Regions from separate parts of the Homo sapiens genome. Here regions 1, 2 and 4 are each linked to region 3. The links come from fine-mapping of genetic effects on gene expression. A gene starts in region 3. Each other region holds a variant in brackets. All regions are shown on one strand. Distances are from middle to middle.

Evidence for each region. PIP is the estimated chance that this variant, and not a neighbour inherited with it, causes the effect.
Region 1: its variant is the best candidate, but not a certain one, in a credible set for the expression of LPCAT2 in whole blood (TOPMed, PIP 0.53).
Region 2: its variant is the best candidate, but not a certain one, in a credible set for the expression of LPCAT2 in monocytes after triphosphate RNA (Kim-Hellmuth 2017, PIP 0.90).
Region 4: its variant is the best candidate, but not a certain one, in a credible set for the expression of LPCAT2 in whole blood (TOPMed, PIP 0.72).

The regions. Positions count from the first base shown.
Region 1 is chr16:55,543,116-55,545,615 of GRCh38, forward strand. The region is part of intron 8 of LPCAT2 (lysophosphatidylcholine acyltransferase 2); the gene reads left to right. Among named protein-coding and RNA genes, the nearest start is that of CAPNS2, 22 kb to the right of the region's middle. The variant G/A (reference allele first, on the strand shown) is at 1,429.
Region 2 is chr16:55,582,976-55,585,719 of GRCh38, forward strand. It overlaps LPCAT2 (lysophosphatidylcholine acyltransferase 2), which reads left to right. Exons shown (of 14, transcript NM_017839.5): 14 at 1-2,744. The coding sequence ends at 123. Among named protein-coding and RNA genes, the nearest start is that of CAPNS2, 18 kb to the left of the region's middle. The variant A/G (reference allele first, on the strand shown) is at 1,564.
Region 3 is chr16:55,507,988-55,510,487 of GRCh38, forward strand. It overlaps LPCAT2 (lysophosphatidylcholine acyltransferase 2), which reads left to right and starts at 1,085. Exons shown (of 14, transcript NM_017839.5): 1 at 1,085-1,365. The coding sequence starts at 1,195.
Region 4 is chr16:55,549,971-55,552,470 of GRCh38, forward strand. LPCAT2 (lysophosphatidylcholine acyltransferase 2) reads left to right here. Exons shown (of 14, transcript NM_017839.5): 11 at 979-1,132. Among named protein-coding and RNA genes, the nearest start is that of CAPNS2, 15 kb to the right of the region's middle. The variant A/C (reference allele first, on the strand shown) is at 1,517.

The sequences.
Region 1 (2,500 bases), 35 kb after region 3:
TTATTCTAGGAGAGGTGACTTTTTATTAGAATTTCCATTGAATTGCTTCTTAGGAGGAATGGGGCCTCCAAGGCCCATGGGTGTCAAATTTAGGATTTTAATTATTTTGTACTCTCAGTGGAACTTTATTCCTTAAGAATAAGATGTCACGCCAATATGAGAGTTATTAAAAATCATTTTATGAAAAATACTACCTGCACTAATATAAAACCAAACCTGTATTTCATTGTATTATGTTTGGTTAACAGTGTAGCAGCAATTTATTTTTCAAGGTTTTCAGTATGACCTTTTATGACCTAAATCAAGTGTATTACAAATGGTTGTTTGACTTTTTTAAAAAATGAAGAATTATATGGCAATTAAAAACTTTAATTTCTTACACTGTTTTGTTAGAGATTTTATGAACATTAATTTCAACTTACTGTTTTTTTCTTGGATTTTATACTAAGCAAATACAAGAAATTTTACTAGATCAGGATGCAGGGAATTTTTAGAAATATTTCTTTGCCAAGATAGTTATTCTAGATATATAAGGATGTGGGGACCTCTGGTGGCTTAGTTTATTTTTCTATCTTAAAAAACAACTATGCAAAATAGAGAGCCACACACAGAATTCCAATGGGAAGGACTTCAGAGATCGTTTAGTTAAATTTTTTCATTTGACAGGAGAGGGCACTGAGGCTCATAAAGGCTAAATGACTTTTCCAGGATCACACGGCAGATCTCAAGCAGCAACCCAGTCCAAGAACACTTTCTGCAGCTTGCAGCTGCCCCCTTAGAGAGGAAATAATCAGATAAATGTGAAAAGTAAATATCCTGTAGCACATTATTCTATAATTCCATACATTTTATCTTAAAAAGGCAACTTGCATCCATGCCATCCTCCACATCCTCACTCCCTCTACTCAAGGTCTTATTATCTCTCCCATGATTGCAGCTGCTTCCAGACATTCTCCCTGCTCTTAGTCTCTTCTTTGGTGCATACACTCCTTACCGCTGAAGTTACCACTTAAAAACTTGGACCTGGTCATGTCATTCCCTTGCTTAAATGTCACCTCTGAGATACCAATGCTTACAGTTTTCTTAATATGATTGACAAGACTTGAAAACAGGTCCATTTGGAAAAAAATGGTATTTTTAACTACTTCTAGTTGCATTCTTTATTTATCAAATGGAAGTGGTAAGATTTACCTCAAGGAATTGTTTAGAGAGTTAATCATATAAAGCCCCTAATATAAAATACCCAGCACACAGTAGATGTTTAATGGATGGTAACTCTTATTGGTGGATTTAGCTCACTGTTTCATAAATTTCTACCCTACTGAATGGAGAGCTTCTTGAGGGCAGGGACTTTGCTGTCATGTTTGTAGGGCTTAGTGCAGTGCCTGAGCACCTACTATGGGGGAAAAATTAATGAAATAAAATAAC[G/A]TATGTAAAACACCTAGCATGATGCCTGGTTTGTAGTTATAATTCAATAAACAGTAACTATTGGCAAAATCTCACTTATTCTTAAAAAGCCAACATCAAGTATTAGTTCTTCTATAGAGCACCCTTAACAGAATTAGCTTTCCTGTGTGCACTCTCTCCCTAGGCACCACCTTCCTCTTTGGCTGCATTTCCCTGGCCCCTGACAAAATTAATCCTTTCCTACCTCTTGCTCTCATACTCCAGGAAGGATGGTTAGTGGAGAAAATAAGGGTTTTTTTTGAATCTGACAAATCTTGGGCTGAATTCTGGCCATGTGACTTGCATGCCTTTAGGTAAGTTAATTAAGCTATTGAGCCCCATCTATAATTGGGGGTAATAAGGGTAATGACACTTAGCATATGGGGTTATTAATGTGTTGTTCTATACTATTAAAATATTGATCTTCTTTAGAGCAGGAAATAGGGTCCTATTAATCTTGCCTGGTATATAGTAGGTGCTGAAAAATACGTAATAACTTGAATATGGCACTAAAACCTTGTTAATGTCAGGAAACCATAAATAAAAACAAGAACAATACAATTGAGGCATCACAGAACATCAAGTGGAGAAAAAGTAGAATTAAAAATGCTAAAGCAAAAAATGGTGTTAAGCAAAAAAGCTGTAAAGCCAATACTAAGAGTTTTTTTAAAAAGCAGAATAAATGACAAAACATAAAGTTCAAACAAATAGTAAAAATATGGTTGACATTAGAATGGATAGAGAAGATGAAAGGCAAAGAGAAAAGAAAAAAAAGTTTTCACATAAAGGGATGGGAGTTTCACATAAAGGGATGAGAGTGGTAGAAAATGCAGCTCGAGGAGAAAGATCTTAGTAGCTACAGCTTTACACTTCCAGAATTCCAGACACTGACTTGTTTCACCCTCACAATCACCAGGGAAGTAGTGATCTTAGCCCTCTTTTTAGAGTTGAAATGGTTCATCAAAGTTAAATGACATACTAGTTAACACACAAGCAGACCCAGGGCTTAGAAACAGATCTCCTGAGTACAAGCCCAGTGCCCCATTACCTCATA
Region 2 (2,744 bases), 75 kb after region 3:
GACCTCCAGACGTGCCATGTGTTTTCATTACCAAAAGAAGTCCAGACAACCCCCTCCACCGCCAGTAATAAAGTCAGCCCTGAAAAGCATGAAGAGAGTACCTCAGACAAAAAAGATGACTGAAAGCAGTATTTCCAATAAGGAAAACACAGTAGCTTTTGCTTGAAATTGTAAAGGCACTTATTGATAATACTTTTAATGTGTTGGTAATGATGTTTAAAATTGAAAGATTTTTAAAACAAAAATGATAGATTTTCTTACTAAAAATGTTTTTATTAACCTTGCTTTTATTGGAAAAAATCAAGCAATATTTCGTTTTCTTTTGTGTTATATTGTACTTTACTGATTCATTTACTGGTGATACATATGTTTTTATGGATTTTCCAGTTTAATTTGCATATACAAATGAATGCAATGGTCTATTGGTGAGCATTGAGCAACACTGTATAAAGTTTTAAAAATGTAAACACTTTTTAATCTACTTTCCTCTAAAAATCAATAATATTCTATTATTTCTAATCCTTTTCCACTTGGGAAATAACAATGAAGAATCTGAGAATTTGACATCTATAACTTTACAGATTCATTTTTCCATTTAAATTTCAGTTTCTTGGATCACTGAATATGGGAAGGGAGAGCTTCACTAATTAGACGCAGCTTCTTAAGAACTTATATTCTCTTTGACATACATCTCTATTGTAGTTTTTTGTTTTGTTTTGTTTTTTGAGATGGAGTCTTGCTCTGTCACCCAGGCTGGAGTGCAGTGGTGCAATCTCAGCTCACTGCAACCTCTGCCTCCTGGGTTCAAGTGATTCTCGTACCTCAGACTCCCGAGTAGTTGGGATTACAGGTGCCCACCACCACACCCGACTAATTTTTGTATTTTTAGTAGCCATGTGGTTTTGCCATGTTGGCCAGGCTGGTTTCGAACTCCTGACCTCAGGTGATCCACCCACCTCAGCCTCCCAAAGTGCTGGGATTACAGGTGTGAGCCACCGTTCCCGGCCTATTGTAGATTTTCTTAACTACTTGCTAAGGAAATCATATCCTTTTACATGAACTACAGGTTTAGAACTTGGTTTTAAGACAACTGCTATGGCCAGAAGGTAAATGGGAATTGCCTTATTGAAGGTAACATTGATTGCCTAATAAGAAAATGAATTGTTTGCCACAGAGTTGAATTTAATTTGAGTTAGATAGTTCAGAATGTAGCACTTGCCCTATAAATGAATCAGATTTGTTCTATTTATATAATATTAGAATTAATATATTATCATGTAAGTGGGAATTTTATTTTGTTAAGTGGACTCTCAAATTTTAGAACTTGTGTGAAATATCTCCCAGAAAACACAAAAGGTTTCAAGGTATCACCCAAAGCTAGGGAATCAACAAACGTACTTTATTAATGCAAGACCACAATTTAAGCCCCAGGCAGGAATCCAACAGTAACATTTTTCCTTTAGGTTAAGCAGTAATTTTTTTGAATTGTCATTTTTAATGGGTCTCACACATGCATATTGCTAATATCATTCATGTTTGAGGTTTTCAACAAAGAACCAATTT[A/G]TTAATATAATGTACAAAAATAGTTGGTTCATTTTCTGAATTCAGTCTTTGAAATAAAACTCCTTGTTTTGGCCGTGTTTCTGAATGTATTGGTGATTCACCCCCAAGCTAATTTTTTAAAGTCATTTTTGAAGTTGGGAAGTCTCATGAGAGATGTTGAAGTATGTATTTAATCAAGAGTCATGATTTCAAACTAGTTTTACATATTAAGCAGTTAGTGTTCTAATTTAATGGGTAAATGTGTGTTTGGATAAATATCTGAAAATTTTATCCTTAAGTATATATAATTATTTGCCTCTTATATGTCTTAAAGCTATTTAAACAAGGTGTTAAATGAGCCAAAACAATTAAGTAATTAGAACAGTACATTTTTATCAGAGTGTCTGTCATATGCAATGAATGTATGTAATACTAAAAAATCATGACTACTTTTATCAAAGAAAAACCACACATTAATCCTATTAATCATGAAAGCGTAGCATTGTAAATTAAAGGTTTTCTTTGAGGCTCTTGAAAGTGATCCCATTGCTTTCCTGTTTTAAAAATATTTTATGCTCTTTATTTCCACTTCTGTGAATGTGATATTTCTATTTTGTGATTATGTTACTGAATAAACAAACTTGCTACATAAAATTCTTAGCAATTAAAAAAATTCTGATTCTGCCATTTTGTCTCAAATGTAATATACCCTTTTAATATCATATGTTTACATATTTATGAATGATTAATCATTTTTGTTTGCATTAAACTTTATGAAATGTCAGAAATGATTTTACTCTAATGAAACTCAAATTTTGCCCAAAGTAGCAATATTCTTAAAGATGTTGAATTTTGACTGGTTGAATTTTATATAGTAACACACAAGTCGTGATCATCAATATTATTGCAGACCAGGACTCTGCTTATATGCCTTGCTAACAAAGATTTCTTTCACAGAGGCTTTTCTCCTCTCAAGACTTAAAGTAAGAATTACATTTTATTAAGTCAGTTAAATGCACCATGGCTTCATATAGTAATATAAAAAAACTCTTTGAAGTGAGAAATATTATATCCTAAAACCTCTAAACCACAAACATTCAATTGAAAGAGTTCTGTTGAAGGATAATGACATACTGACTGCTTACAGACCAAGTTGCTTGCATTTTGTATGTTTAGCCCTCCTTTGCCACTGCTTTTAGAGC
Region 3 (2,500 bases):
TTATTAATGTTCCCTGTTACACTGAGAGAAAAGTCAGTGGCTCCACAACATAATAATGCTTAAAACATGCCATTTCTTCAGTGTTTCTCTATGAACACTACACATGCATTATTTTATTTAATCCTTGCTACAATTCTATGGAGTTAGAATGAATCTCCCATTCCTAGACAAGGAAGCAAACTCAGGTTAAGTGACTGACTCAAGGCCACACATCTATGTGGTAGGGCTGGAAGATTCTGACATTCAGAGGGTAACTTTGGAGAACCCCAGGGCTCAGACTCAGATTTTCATCCTGGCCTTCCTACCTGCTGTGAGAAGAGTTGATCAGTTGGGATGAGTTGATTATCATCTCCTTCCTTTAACTCTCAGCCACTCAGGGTTGATCAACTGTCCTCAGATAATGGGACAAACCCCTGCCCTCCCACCCCCACGAGCACCCACATAGGTCCAAACAGGCTTGAACTTCCTCAGTGTGAAAGGGAGCCACAGCCCAATACATTTCCCTTTTCTGGGTCAGGTTCCTCATCTAGCGTGGAGGGCAACTGTAATTTTTGCCTTTTCTGGTAATAGTAGCTCAGTTTTCCTCTGGAGAACCATCTCTCCCCTGTCAGTCCATTATGTTTTGAGTGAAACAAATTCCACTCCTAGTGCCATCATGGGTGTATTAATATTAGCTCACTTAATGGAACAGCCCAGGGGAAGTGGTTGCTCAATGGCATTACTGGATCCAGGTTAGGATTATCTGAGAATACATTTATCTGCATTTTACGGAAGGCAACCGAGGTTCATAGAGATAGTGATTTGGCCAGCGTCACAGGCCCAGTAAAAGGGATTGAAAATCCAGGTCCGTCCGACCCTAAAGCAGGGAACTCTGCCTAGTGTCTCGCTGTGGAATGTTAGGGATCCTGGGGTACCCTTCAGGGTCTTGGCTCGGAAGGAAAACATTCCCCTCCGAGGGGATGGACTATATTACCAAGGGGGTGGAGCCAGATGCCTGAGGGGGTGTGGCCAGAGCCTGGGGCGTGTCACAGCCGAAGGGGCAGGGCGGCAGCAGCAGGCGTCTAAGTAACTTCAGCGCCTGCGCAGAGGCTCCCCAGCGTCGCCCTAGGCTGGGACTCTAGTAGGTCTTCGGCTCAGTTTTGGCTGCAGCGCCCGCGTAGATCGCTTCGGCCGGGTTCTACGCCCGGCTCAACTATGAGCCGGTGCGCCCAGGCGGCGGAAGTGGCGGCCACAGTGCCAGGTGCCGGCGTCGGGAACGTGGGGCTGCGGCCGCCCATGGTGCCCCGTCAGGCGTCCTTCTTCCCGCCGCCGGTGCCGAACCCCTTCGTGCAGCAGACGCAGATCGGCTCCGCGAGGCGGGTCCAGGTGAGGGGCGTGGGTCTGAGGGGAGAGGTGGTCTGAGGGGGGCCTAGGTCAGAGGGGGGTCCAGGTAAGGGGTGTGGGTCTGAGAGAGGAGGGCGGCCGAGGGGGGCGTGGGTCTGAGGGAGTGAGGTGGTCCGAGGCGGGCGAGAGTCTGAGGAGGGAGGTGGCCTGAAGGGGGCATGGGTCTGAGGAGGGAGGTGGCCCGAGGGGAGCCAGGGTCTGGGGCGGGTCCAGGTGACTGGTGTAGGTCTGACGGGGGAGGGCGGTCGAGGGGCGCGTGGGTCTGAGGGGCGTTGTGGGTCTGGGAAGCAAAGGCATCAGAGGAAGAAAGAGCAGTGGATCTGAGAGGAGAGGACTTCTGAGGGGCCGTGAGCCTGAAAGGGGCGGAGATGTGTGTCTGAGAATTGAGGACATTTAGAGGATGGTCTGAGCGGGCACGGGAGGAGAGAAGATGCTGGGAAGATGCGGGCCTGAGAGGAGAATCCAAAACAGGAAGAGACTGAGCTGGCTGGTGGCGCAGGCTACATTCCATGCCCCAGAAGGTTGAAGGAATCTGTGAATCTGTGACAGAAGCTTCAACTTGAGTTTATGAGAGTGTAGTGGGAGGCAGATCTACTACGGGAGAGTAGATTTGAAGAAGTCTTTTTTTTTTTTTTTTTGCCTTAGGAAGGAGAGGAGTCAGTATGGGATGGATAAGAGTGAGGCAGAAGGCAGAGAGCCTAGGTCTGTGGTTAGAACAACAGGTAAGGCTGGAAAGATTTAGCTGAGCAGGAGCATGATGGAGGGTGGGAAGTCAGAATCAAAGAAAAGGGACAACTGAGTCAGCTTAGGATGTTCAAGAAGTTTTGGTCCAGAATCAGTCTTCACCTAAAAACGTTTCCTAAGTTGAAGCATGAGAAGTAGTAGCCCAGGCTGTTTTCCATTGTTAAAAATGGCTATACTGTTATGCACAAAGGAAGTTTCCTTTCCTTTCCTTTTTCTTGTAAAGGGTTCCTTTTACCATTGGCAGTTGCACTCTTTGGACTTCCTCTTTGTTGAAGTTAGTGATCAGAGAACAAGATAGACCCTGCTAACCACATTTGTCCGTGTGTTCTGCGGGGGTTGGGGGGGTGGGGGAACAATTTTGAAGTTTTCATGT
Region 4 (2,500 bases), 42 kb after region 3:
ACCCTTACTGCAGTTCATTCTGTTCTCAGCCCTAACTGGAATTTGCAGAATTTATTAATTAACATCCTGTCTATGAAGGAGCTGAAGAACCAGTTACTATATCAAAGTTCAGTATTAAAGTATAATATTTTGATAACTGATATAGAAAATATTATTTATATTGTAAGATAATAAAAATGTTTTGCTTTTGTTTGCATATTATAGTTACAATGTTCTGTAGATTTAAAAAGTTTAGTTAGTCACTGAAATTGGGCTAAGAATATATGTTAGGTCATTAGTTTAATTCAACAAAGCAAAGATAGGCTATGATGTAAGCTACAGTACATTTTCCAGTGTTTTATCACCGTAGTTTTTCATAACTAATCTTGGAGGACATGTGTATAGTCTAATGAATCCCCCTATCATAACATTTTGTGAAATATGAATTCATTATCAGCCTGAAAGCTTCTTGAAAGCAAGAATTGTTATTTCATCTTTAAAAACTTAATACAGACTATGGACTCACTAAGTAATGTTTAGATTTAAAATATTTGCTTTCTTATTTTCTTCTCATGAATAATTTATTATTCCACTACAATGTTCTTCTTTTCATATACTTTTCTTTCCCTGAGATATTTGAGATAATTGTTAGTTATACAAGTATCCTTTAAAAGATTAAATGCGGGCCGGGCGTGGTGGCTCACACCTATAATCCCAACACCTTGGGAGGCCGAGGCAGGCGGATCACGAGGTCAATAGATCGAGACCATCCTGGCCAACATGGTGAAACCCCATCTCTCCTAAAAAATACAAAATAAAAGATTAAATGCCTGCATATATGTTGAATATGTGCTTTTAAGTACCTATTTTATTCTCCTTTACAAATTTAACACTTAAAATATTTTTCTCCCAGATACATTAATAAAATAATGATCATAAAATGTGCATGTGAATTGTAAAGGGCTAATAACATGTATCTATAATTCTTTGTTTGTTTAGATTAGATTGGGATGGTGTTCGTAAGCATTTGGATGAATATGCATCTATTGCGAGTTCCTCAAAAGGAGGAAGAATTGGAATTGAAGAATTCGCCAAGTATTTAAAGTTGCCTGTTTCAGATGTCTTGAGACAACTTTTTGCACTCTTTGACAGGGTATGTTAAAATTTAATCTTTCACATTTTTACTCTGTCAGTCCTACAGTGAGTAAATCAATATGGTAGGCAATTTGAAAAACTTGATAGGTCAGTGTTAGAAGAATCAAGGCTGAGCCTATGGTTTAATTGCATGATTTTGTTTTTTTCTCCTTAATAGTAATATTAATAATTGTGTGTGTGTATTGTAACATTTATTATACTGTCATATATAATAAAATATCATATCATATCATATCATATATATATCTATTATTTTAGTGTAATATGATATAATGTATGTATCTATTATTTTAAATACCAGGTCAGAAATAAATATTGTGACCATATAACCACATTTGTGGTATGGAACTGGAAGAGTTTATATCATTGGCAGGAATTTTAA[A/C]ATTTATATCAAAACTCATACATTGATGACATGGGTGTTTAGAATTTTATTCTGAAGGTTTTAGACTTCCACAAACCTGTATGAAGACCAAATAGATTTTTATTTTCAAGTGACATTTTGTAACAAAGATTTTAATTAAAATCTGGCCATTTGCCATTATATTAGGGATACAGTTTGCTGCTTATGAATATTTAAGGACATGCAATTAGATAATTGAACTGTCAAAAAGTTTCCCTAGGAAAACTGTTCACAACTTCAGGTTTTCTATTTTTTAATTTGTGTTTTAATATATAAAATTGATAGTATACAGAAATTAGCCAGGCATAGTGGTGCACACCTGTAATCCCAGCTACTCAGGAGGCTGAGGTGGGAAGATCACTTGAGCCCAGGAGGCGAGGTTGCAATGAGCCAAGATCATGCCACTGCATTCCAGCCTGAGCAACAGAGCAAGACCCTATTCTCAAAAAAAAATTGATAGTAAAATGCACTCTTTTGGTTACAGTTCTATGAATTCTAACAAATGCACAGAAGCATGTAACTACCACTGCATTCAAGATACACAACAGTTGAAAAAATATATATATTTTCTTGCAGCTATTCCATTTGTAGTCAAGCCCTTCCCCCAGTTTTAAGTCCTGGCAGCCAGTGATCTGTTCTCCATCAATATAGTTTATCTTTTTCCAGATGTCATATAAATGGAATCATACAGTATATAGTTTTTTGAGTATGGCTTCTTTCACCAAGTATAATGCATTTGAGATCCAGGCATGGTGTTTTATAGATCAATAATTAATTCCCTTTCATTGCTGAGTAGTATTCAATTGTATAGATGTACCATAGTTACTTTATCTATTCCCTAGTTGAGGAATATTTGGTTTGTGTACAGTTGGGGGCAAATGTGACTATAGCTGTCATTCTAAGAATTTGTATATAGGTTATTATATAAATGTAGGTTTTCATTTCATTTTACTTGGGTAAATACTT